Regions from separate parts of the Homo sapiens genome. Here region 2 is linked to region 1. Evidence: fine-mapped expression QTL. A gene starts in region 1. The other region holds a variant in brackets. All regions are shown on one strand. Distances are between the middles of the regions. Region 1 holds the start of SNAP47 (synaptosome associated protein 47). Region 2 overlaps SNAP47 (synaptosome associated protein 47).

Evidence for each region. PIP is the estimated chance that this variant, and not a neighbour inherited with it, causes the effect.
Region 2: its variant is the best candidate, but not a certain one, in a credible set for the expression of SNAP47 in prefrontal cortex (BrainSeq, PIP 0.85).

Annotation. Positions count from the first base shown.
Region 1 is chr1:227,733,284-227,738,772 of GRCh38, reverse strand. It overlaps SNAP47 (synaptosome associated protein 47), which reads right to left and starts at 3,338. Exons shown (of 5, transcript NM_053052.4): 1 at 3,274-3,338. JMJD4 (jumonji domain containing 4) reads left to right here and starts at 3,471. Exons shown (of 6, transcript NM_023007.3): 1 at 3,471-3,761; 2 at 3,957-4,122; 3 at 4,741-4,866; 4 at 5,092-5,359. The coding sequence starts at 3,500. RefSeq lists silencers at 3,000-3,289, 3,750-3,949.
Region 2 is chr1:227,765,348-227,770,608 of GRCh38, reverse strand. It overlaps SNAP47 (synaptosome associated protein 47), which reads right to left. Exons shown (of 5, transcript NM_053052.4): 4 at 3,526-3,650. Among named protein-coding and RNA genes, the nearest start is that of SNAP47, 33 kb to the right of the region's middle. RefSeq lists enhancers at 3,890-4,639, 4,640-5,261. The variant AAG/G (reference allele first, on the strand shown) is at 2,919.

The sequences.
Region 1 (5,489 bases):
GAACCATATTCCAAGATCTTGAGACAATTATAAACACTCTGCTCCCCACATCTTCCCCATTGGCCTCCCATGATCTGCATGCACCACAACCAAAATCAAATGACTACTAGCAATTAAGGAACAATATGTGGCAAGATCAATTAAGGTCAATTAATTGTCAATATTGAGGTCAATATGTGGCAAGATGTTACAGCATATTGTTAAATAAAAAACAAAAGACTAAAAGCAGCAAAAGTTTATATATGTATATTATACACGATGGAGAAAGAGACTGTGTATGTGTGAGTGTGTGTGCATACATGTGCGTGAACGTATAGGCAAGGACTGGGGGGAGAGAAGAGTGGAGAGAGAGAATGAATGAATGAATGAATGTATGTGTGAAGGAATGTAGAAAAGCCGGCTCTACACCAGGAATAAAAAACGGTCATCTCGGCTGGGTGTGCGGTGGCTCACGCCTGTAATCCCAGCACTTTGGGAGGCCGAGTCGGGCAGATCACAAGGTCAGGAGTTCGAGACCAGCCTGACCAACATGGTGAAACCCCGTCTCTACTAAAAATACAAAAATTAGCTGGGCGTGGTGGTGCGCGCCTGTAATCTTCGCTACTCAGGAGGCTGAGGCAGGAGAATCACTTGAACCTGGGAGGCGGAGGTTGCAGTGAGCCAAGATCATGCCATTGCACTCCAGCCTGGGTGACAGAATAAGACGCGGTCTCAAAACAGCAAAAACAACAAAACAAAAAACAAAAAACAAAAAAACCAAAAAAAACCAAAGCAAAAAAACCCCAGTCATCTCTGGACGGAACTGGAGGTGATTCTTTCTCTGCAACTGTAACTTCTCCAGACATTCTGATTCTCTAGTGTAAAAAAAACCCCAATAAACAATTGCATACCGTGATCACACAAGCCACAATAGGGCTGACTAGGAAGGGACCATAGCACGCACTGAATCACACAATCCCCAAAACAACTCTCCGCCTCCTGTCCCTGCCCTCATATCCCACCTTTACCTGGACTCAGACTCCCAAAACTCACTTTCCTCCTAGTCCTCCCTCCAACTCCTCAGACCTTGGTCCTCCCTCTTCTGCTCCTCCCTGTTCTCCTGGGTAAACCTCACACCCCTTGGAAAGAGTCTTCCAGCAAGGCTCAGAGCCCCAGCACTCCTAGAACCTCCCATATCCCCACTTATAAGAGTAAATAAAACAACATTTCCATTGCTTCATAAAGGGAAGGCAGGTGCCCCTCTCCCGCTTAGGATGCCTCTGTTTGGTCTGGAATGAGATAGCCCAGTGTCCAGATTTTACAAGACACAGTCATGGTCTGATGGCCCCTAGAATGTCATCAGACCTCCAAACCTAACTCAAAGGCCTCGCACTGTGTGCAAACCAGCACAAGCTGCCTCTCATTTCTCTGGGAGAGATGAGCGGTTCTAACTGTTCCTCCTTCCACCTCCCTGTCAAGACGCCTGGGAAATGCTGCCCAGACTCTGCACTCTCTCGCAGAGCACCTATGTGCACACAGCCTGCCAGGCTTCGGGGGCAATAAATCTGCTATCTTTCCTTCTGCATCCATGTGGGTAGCTTTGAGCTGATTTCTCCAGCACACCAAGACATACATCACATAGGGTCCCCCATGGCCCCACTTTCGTGTCCTGGCCGAAAATCACAGAGTACCCTGATCCCTCTGTGCCCCAACCACAGGTTTTCCCCACCAGGCTTCAACCCAATCCAGGGCCTTTAACATTTCCAGGCATGGAAGAAAGTATCTAGGTTTACTACAAAGAAAACGGCCTTGGCCCTGAGCCAAATTCCTGAAACCTTCCTATAAACTCCATAACCCACACCCCTTCCAAGAGACATACCTAGGGAGGACATCCCTTTTCCCTTACTGCCCGTCTCGAGGACTACCGCAGCCCACTCTATATGAAAGTTCCCCTAACAAAACCTCTAGGCAGGGCCTGGCGCAGTGGCTCACACCTGTAATCCCAGCACTTAGGGAGGCCAAGGCAGAAGGATTGCTTGAGCCCAAACGTTCAACACCGGCTTGGGCAACACAGAGACCCTGTCTCTACAAAAAAAAAAAAAAAAAACAAAAACAAAAAAACAAAACTAAGCTGGGCATAGTGGCTCATGCCTGTAGTCCCAGCTACTTGGGAGGCTGAAGCAGAATTAAAGAATTCATCAAGCCCAGGAGGTGGAAGCTGCAGTAAGCTGTGATGGTGCCACTGCATACTGTCTCAAAAAAAAAAAAAAAAAAAAAAAAAAAAAAAAAAACTGCTCTGGGCTTACCATGCATTTAGCACTTCTTTCTTTGGTATCCCAACTGGTCCCACCTGAGGATAGTGTGGGGAACTCCCTTGCCGCCACTTTTGGGGTAACTCCAGTTGCAAGTTTGGCAAAACACTCCTCATGTCACTACTCCGATGTCCTCCCACTTCAGCCCTGCTCATGTGTACACAGCCCCAAATCCCTACCCACACTCCCACCACACCTTCATTTCACACCCTCCCTCATTCCCCACCATCTTCTCCAGACACCCGTCATCCCCTGGGGCCCCTTGCCATGCCCTCCAGGTCCCCTGTGGGCCCCATTCGCCCATCTAGGTTACCCTGCCCCCTCCAGCCCTCCCACCATTTTCCTCCAGGTCCCCACCATCCTCTCTAGATCCCATGTCCCCTCCAGGTGCCACTGATCCCTCCAGGAACCCACTGTCCCCATCCCTTCCAAGTGCTACCGTCCCCTCCAAATCCCCACTGTCCCCTCCAGGTCCTCAATGTCCCCATCTCCTCCAAGTGCCACCGTCCTCTCCAGGTCCCCACCGTCCTCTCCAGGTCCCCACTGTACCCATCCCCTCCAGATCCCACCGTCCTCTCCAGGTCCCCACTGTCCCCATCCCCTCCAGGTCCCACCGTCCCCTCCAGATCCCGTCTCCATCCCCTCCAAGTGCCACCGTCCTCTCCAGGTCCCCACCATCTCCTCCAGGACCCTACCATCTCCGCTAGATCCCACCATCCCAGGGCCCCCCAGCTCTCCCTCTGGGTCCCACCGTTCTCTCCGGGTCCCATCATCCCTGGGCGCCCCCGCACCGCCGCACTCCCGCCCCCAGAACCGCCTCTGTCCCCGCCCCTCTCCCAGCGCAGCCCGCATACCCCCCACCCCCCGGGGATGCGGGAAGGAGGGCTCGGGCTGTGTCAGCCACAGCGCGCGGACTGAGCCGAGGGCGGACGCTACGGCTTGGCTTGGGCCGGGCGCCCAACAGACCAACACCGTCGCTCACCTGAGGGACGCCAGACGAGTCCCAGAGCCGACCGCGGCGCCTCGGCCGCTCGGCGCCTGCGCAGTGAAGACCGCGGCGAGCCGCGCGCATGCGTGCAGGCCCGGAGCCCCAGGCGCTGGCGGGGCAGAAACGCGGCGCCCTGCGTCTTCTGGTTCCGAGGCTGGTCCTCACCGTTTCCGCTCCGGCGGAAGTGAGGAGGAGGGTCCTTCGACCCGTGCTGAGCTGGATGGACCGCGAGACGCGCGCCCTCGCCGACAGCCACTTCCGAGGCCTGGGGGTCGATGTCCCCGGCGTCGGCCAGGCTCCGGGCCGGGTAGCCTTCGTCTCGGAGCCGGGCGCCTTCTCCTACGCCGACTTTGTGCGGGGCTTCTTGCTGCCCAACCTGCCCTGCGTGTTTTCCAGCGCCTTCACGCAGGGCTGGGGCAGCCGGCGGCGCTGGGTGACGCCCGCGGGGAGGCCCGACTTCGACCACCTGCTACGGACCTACGGTGGGGCGGCGGCCGCAGACCCCGGGCGGGGAGGAAAGGCCGGCGGGACCCAGGCCCGGGAGGCCCCCGCCTAGAGAGGGGCACCAGGGAGGGTGAGGGAGGCCAGGCGCGTGGCCCCTGGAGAGTTCCTCTGCAGACGGTTTGGAGTGAGGACGGGGCCCAGGGAGATGGCATGGACCGTGCCTTTCATTTCAGGAGACGTGGTTGTACCAGTTGCAAACTGTGGGGTCCAGGAATACAACTCGAACCCCAAAGAGCACATGACTCTCAGAGACTACATCACCTACTGGAAAGAGTACATACAGGCGGGCTACTCCTCTCCCAGGGGCTGTCTCTACCTCAAAGACTGGCACTTGTGCAGGTAATGGGGCTTGGGACGCACCGAGGCGCTGCCTTCCCTAGCGCTGCGTGAACCCAGAGGCCTTTCTGATGAAGGTGGCCCCTGGGTGCACAACGGAGCTATTTTTCCCCGTGAGGCACTTTAATCAGTTTAAAAGAAACTGGATTGTCTTCCGCATGGCTGCAAGTGTTGTTCTTTGGGAGGTCAATATGGTTTTTTTTCCTTTTTTTTTGAGAGAGATCTCCTCAGCCTCCCTAGTACCTGGGATTACAGGAAGGCGTCTCCACTCCCGGCTTTTTTTTTTTTTTTTTTTTTTTTTAAAGAGACTAGGTTTCACCATGTTGCCCAGGCTGGTCTTGAACTCCTGAGCTCAGGTGATGCATCCACCTCAGCATCTCAAAGCACTGGGATTATAGGCATGATCAGTACTTTCTAATAAGCAGAACCATTGTAGTCAGACTGCCCCGCCCCCTCCCCCGCCAGCAGCGTCTGGCTCAGAGGAGGGTCTGGGGCTCTTTGGGGGCTGCAGCCATCTGGAAGCTCCACTGGAGCCGATTGGTCTCAGTTGCCCCACTCGTGCTGCCCTAGTCTCCTCGTGCCTCACGTGCTGTCGGTGGTGCCCTTGCGCCCTCCTCACAGGGACTTTCCGGTGGAGGACGTTTTCACCCTGCCTGTGTACTTCTCGTCCGACTGGCTGAATGAGTTCTGGGATGCACTGGATGTGGATGACTACCGCTTTGTCTACGCGGGGCCTGCGGGCAGCTGGTGAGGCCACGGATGTGGGAGTGGAACCCGAAGGGGCCTGGTGACAGAACGGACTGGGAGGCCCAGGGTGGCAGGAGGGGGGCTGCTTGGCACAGGCCTCACAGTGGGTGCCATCCCTTGAGACCAAGGGGCCACCCCTCCTTCAGTTGGACCAGGCCTCTGGGGTGCCAAGCAAAGCCCATACCAGCCCCTACAGGCATGAACCAGGCGCTCTTGCTGCCGCAGGTCCCCGTTCCATGCTGACATCTTCCGCTCCTTCAGCTGGTCTGTCAATGTCTGTGGGAGGAAGAAGTGGCTCCTCTTCCCCCCAGGGCAGGAAGAGGCCCTGCGGGACCGCCACGGCAACCTGCCCTACGACGTGACCTCCCCAGCACTCTGCGACACACACCTGCACCCACGGAACCAGCTTGCTGGCCCACCCTTGGAGATCACGCAGGAAGCGGGCGAGATGGTGTTTGTGCCCAGTGGCTGGCACCACCAGGTGCACAACCTGGTAATGTGCTGCTTCTCCTGCCCCCTATCAGGGGCCTTCCTGCAGGAAGACGGCAGCACCACCTCCCCACTCTCCCAGCCAGAGCTGGGCTGGAATGGGGTGGCTCATGGGTGAGGCTGACCCCTTCACA
Region 2 (5,261 bases), 32 kb before region 1:
GGGGGTCCCTGAGGAAGATGCAATGCATTCTCCAGTTCCTAAAAAAGAGAAACAAAAGGAAAGAAAGGGATGTTACCTTCTGAAAATAGTTTCATAGAAGGCAGGGAGCCCCAGAATGACTTCAGAATGTTCCAGCAAATCACCAGAACTGGTCCACATGGGACATGACGCTGTGGAGTGGGCAGAGGGTTTCTGCCAAACAAAGACGTGAGGACAGAAACACCTGGCTCCCCACATGCCCAGAAGCTGCAGTCCCACACCTCCACGTGAGCCCTACCTGAGCCCCAAGTGAGCCTGACCGCACCCTCAGTCTCACCCCCGTCCCAGCACCAGGCTCGGCTCCCTGGGAACCCTTTGACTCTGAATGGAATGAGTTGCATGGCTTTCCTGTTACCATGTGTGTTTGCATTTGTTGTTTATGGAGACGTCACAGGCAGTGGTACGCTGGTCGCCCCATGCCATAAGGCAGGAGGCTGAGGCGTCACCCAAGCAACCCCTGGGACCTGTGCCCACAGGGACCGGCCATGGCACATCTGTTCCTATCAGGAACCACGGCAGGAGTGCAGCAGGCTTCTTTCCCACCATCAGGCACCAGCGAGGCTCCCACCCACTCTCCCGCCAGACCCAGTGTCTGTCGACACTGAGTGTCCACCTGGTTCCTCCCTGGAGACAGAGGGACGTGGACACAGCAACCCCAAAGCAGGACAAGACAGATGAGGCTGCATGAGCTGGAGTGTCCCAGGGAACTGCCCTAGACCACCTCCAGTTCTACTGTGTCCAGGCACCGCGTCCATGGCGTGGGCCCTAGTGGATTCCACAGCCGCAAAGAGAAGCGGACAACAGAAGCAAGTCAGGGGCTCTGTCAAATCCACCTCCTACAGCCCCCGGCCCTCCACCCTCCACAACCACAGTGACACAGTGGCCAGGGCCCCAGAGACAGAAGGGCTCGCCGTGTCACCCCTGCCTGTCCTGTGTGATCACAGCCACCCTCTCCTGAGCACCCCCAGTTGCAACCCACACCACTGGGACACGTTTCAGCATGATGGCTTTAATAGCATCTGCAACAAAAACCACAGCTGGATGAAGGGGGGTTTCGTGCATTTTTATTTTCCCCAGAAATGTAACTCACTCTGGCTTCTGCTTGAGCTTCAACTGTGCACTAGGAATTCTCTAAATAGGAAACACATGTATTGCCTCAAAAAGACAGTCTCCTGTGAAACTAGGCTCCTCCTGCAAGGAAGGGGGCCCGCATCTGACCAACGTGCTGCCCTTGCCCCCAAGGCACACCAGGCCTTCCTGGGCCCTCCCAACCCCATACCTTGGGTGACTGCTTCCTCCCGCTCTGCCACTGGCCTTGATGCCACAGTCGTGAATGTGAAGCCTGTTCCTCCCGGTGTTGAGCCACTGGGCTTGCTGGATCTTTAATGATGGCAGTGCCCATGCAGCCCCAGGGGAGACACAGCCTGGATGGCTGGTGGGGAGCCCCACTCACCCTCAGCTCCGTGCAGTCACCTGACCACCTCCCCAACGCTCCCGGGCTTTGAGGTGAAGAACACGCCACACGTGACAGGAGAGTCTGATGTGTGGACACTTGAGGGCCTCTCCAACTACATGGCCACCATTGCAATTAACAGGTAAAATTCCTATTTTTTCATCTTAAAGCTTTGCTCCTACTTCAGTCTAAACACAACCGTGGGATACAGTGAGTATCTCGGCCGTGGACACCTTTGTGGGGTGTGGGAGTGGGGTGTGCTCAGATCCTGCCAGTCTCAGCCACGTGCCGAGGCACTCTCAGGAGGATGGCTGGGAAAGAATCAGGTAAGTCTATCTTTACAGTATTGGGATTTCTCAAAAACCCTGAGCAAACGAGACCCAGGCCAAGAATGTTCTGGAGGCAGTGAGTGTATCTGAAGGTGACTAGGAACCTGCAGAGTGAGCTGGCTACACCTACCAGGCAGTGCTGTGTGTGCCATTACCAGACATGACTAAGTGAGGCCGGGAGGAAAAAGTGACAGGCTGTGTCCACTTGAATTACCCCAGAGCAAATATGAACACCTTTTTCCCCAAACAAGCTGGCCTCAAAGGAGTTTATGCCTACACAGACACGTAAAGTAAGAATTGGTTTTTAAAAACAGGCATAAGAGACAGAGTGTCTTTATCCACCTCCTGGTGGACATGGGCAGAGCCATCCACAAAACACTCCCTACAAAAACAGGGCCGGGCCTGACAGAGCCCCAGACCCACCTGCCGACTCAGAGGCTCAGGGACGGGGAGCCCATGCCCTGCGTGGACACAGAACTGCAAGATCCAAAGTGCACAGTCTCAGCCCAACAGACAGCTTTGCTTTTTCCAGGAATCAACTGTAGGGGAAGACGAGACGGAAGCTGCACCTGGAGACTGCATGTGCGCCACATACCCTGTGGGACACACCCTTCAGCAAGGGCTCAGAAGGTGGGAGCACTGCCTGGATACTGGATGGTGCTGAGGAATGACTTCCTGTTTCCTAAGGCGACAGTGGCAGTACGGTTCTTTCTGAATGGCTCTTATCCTTTAATGATACATATGGAGATATTTACAAATGAAGTGATATGATGACTGAGTACAGCTTCAAAAATTACTTGGAAAGCCAGCATGTTAGGCAACAACCTCTGGACAAGATAGGAGTATTTACACTGAACATTAAAATTCCAGCCTCCCAGGCACAAAGTGCTGAGCCTCCTTAAGAACCAGTGCTCAGCACATGAGGGCTGAGTGAGCCATGCACCCGACTGTGCATGCATACAGTGCACACACAGAACACGCAACACACAGCAGGCATGTACCTGCATGCATGCACAGTATACAGAGCACACATGCACGCACATGCACAGCACACACAGAGTACACATACATGTACAGTACATGCACGCTCCACACAC[AAG/G]ACATGCACATATACACATGCCCATGCACAGTACACACAAGGTACACATACAGCACATATACATGCATAGTACATGCAACACATACACCACATGCACAGCACACACATGTGCATACACACACAACACACACAACACACACATGTACTCACAAGTACACACACATGCACATGCACATACACAGTACAAGTACATGCATAACATATGTACACATAGCACACATACTACACACAAATGCACAATGTGTACAGTACATGCACACTACACACAGCATGCACATGTACATGCACGGTAAACATACACACCTGTGCACACACACACACGGACATGTACAATGGGTGCAGGTGGTAGCCAGGGCAGCTGTGTGTGCATAGGAATGTGTCTGAATGTGGTGCATGTTGTGTTCCAGGAAGTGTGTGGACCTGGGACGGACACTGCCCTTCCTCCCTCCCTGCAGCTGCCGAGTGGAGGCCAGCAGCTCCTCCTTGGTGCGAGGCCAATACGGATGGATGACCCAGAGCTTGTTTGTGATCAGAAAGGCAAGAGGAGCAGCCTGCGGGAAGACTGGGACACAGCGCTGGCTGGCATGGCACTGGGGACATCTTACCTGGGTTAGTTCCTGGGTATCTGCCTCAGAAAGGGCTGGCAGGCTTGTCTGCAGGTGCAGTGCTGTGCCCTCCTGGTCTCCTGCGGGTGGCTCACGGTGCAGGGTACGGCCCATCAGCCCAGATGCTGCAAGGAGAGCAGATGGTCAGCAGTGACATCTCTCGGAGTTGCAACAACCCTCGTGTGCTCTGGATGGCAGAGCGTGGTCTTTGAGGCGGTGTTCCTCCCGCCACCACACGCAGGACTGCTTCCTCTCTCGACCTCTGTGAGCCTTGCCTTGCCACCCGGCCCCGAAGGATTAGGGTCTGCAACACTGCAAACAGACGGTGGCCACTCTGTACCTCTCAGAGTAAAAGCCCTACATCCCAAGTGGTTTTATTTTATTTTATTTTTGAGAAAGGCTGAAGATTTGGAGTAAAAAACACAAGAATCATTGAACTCTGGTGAAATGCACATCACACACGACTGGGGAACTGCAGCGACATCTGAGCTACTCTGCAGAAGGCTGAGGTTCTGGAGAGCACAGGAAGTGGCCCACAGCCCAGGCCAAGCACTGCCACACGTCTGCGCCACCGAGGTGGGAGGTGAGTCAGAGCTGCCCGTGGTCAGGCTCAGAGAGGACCTGGGTGTTTCCACCCTGTGGTGAGCCTCAGGGCTCCAAGCCACCTGCCAGAGGCAGTCTCGCTCCGCAGAAGGTGGCCCAGTGTGCCTCCTGCAGAGGCCACCTGCCCTTTATTTACAGAGCAGCTTCAACAGCAGCCTTGACACCCCGGGGCCCAGATAAGGGCGCAATGTTGTTTGCTCTTCTGCAGCACACGCAGCTCCCCTACGTCTGGTGCAGCCGTCATTTACGAGGATGTCAGGAAACAGGCAGGGAGAGTGCAGCTGCAGTGCCAGCTCCTGATGGGGCAGGCAGGCAGGTGGGTGGCCTCAGCATCCCTCCCAGGTTCCTACCTCAGCCAGCAGAGCCCGTACCCTCCTCAATCCTGATGGATGCAGCCCGGGAGCAGTGGCTGAGCGTGACATCAGAAAAGGAGAGGAAAGGGGGGATACCTGGGGGTGCACTCTTGCTGGGGCCAAGGGCATACCCCCTCTAGCCTATCACTCCCTAAATGATCTTGACAAGCTCACCTTCCAACCCCACCCTCCACAGGAGAGATGCCACCTCCAAGATGCCACCCCCGCCAGCCTATCAACCCCCAAATGATCCTGACAAGCTCACCCTCCCTGACAGCACCCGGCTGAGCAGAGAAGGACCAGCCTTGCCCAGGGCCACAGGGGACTGAGCACAGGGATGGCCCTAAAGAGGGAGCAGCTCCAGGCCCAGCAGATGGGTGCGAGTGCAAGTGGGGAAGTGGGGTGAGACTCAGGTGGGAAGTAAGGGGCTCCCTTCACAGATAGCACCAGCGGGACAGATTGCCCAGTGGGCTGTTTTCCTATCCCACTCTTCAGAAACAAACTCTGGTTACAACCAACAACAATTTCACAACCTAGGTTTGCAACACCCAAGCTGTATGTGGGTGCTCTCTGGGAAGCTGCGGCCCACTACTGTGCTTCTCTGAATTTGTGCATTACCCATAGGAGCCTGCAGGCCCTCACATGAAGCTGCTCACTGAGGAGCCCTTCTCTGAAACACTGAGCCACAGTGCACAGGCCAAGCTAGGCTGGAAGACACAGCCACAAACTCAGAGGATGTGTGCCTCTGGTGACCTGAGATCACAGGGTGGCCCCCGTCCA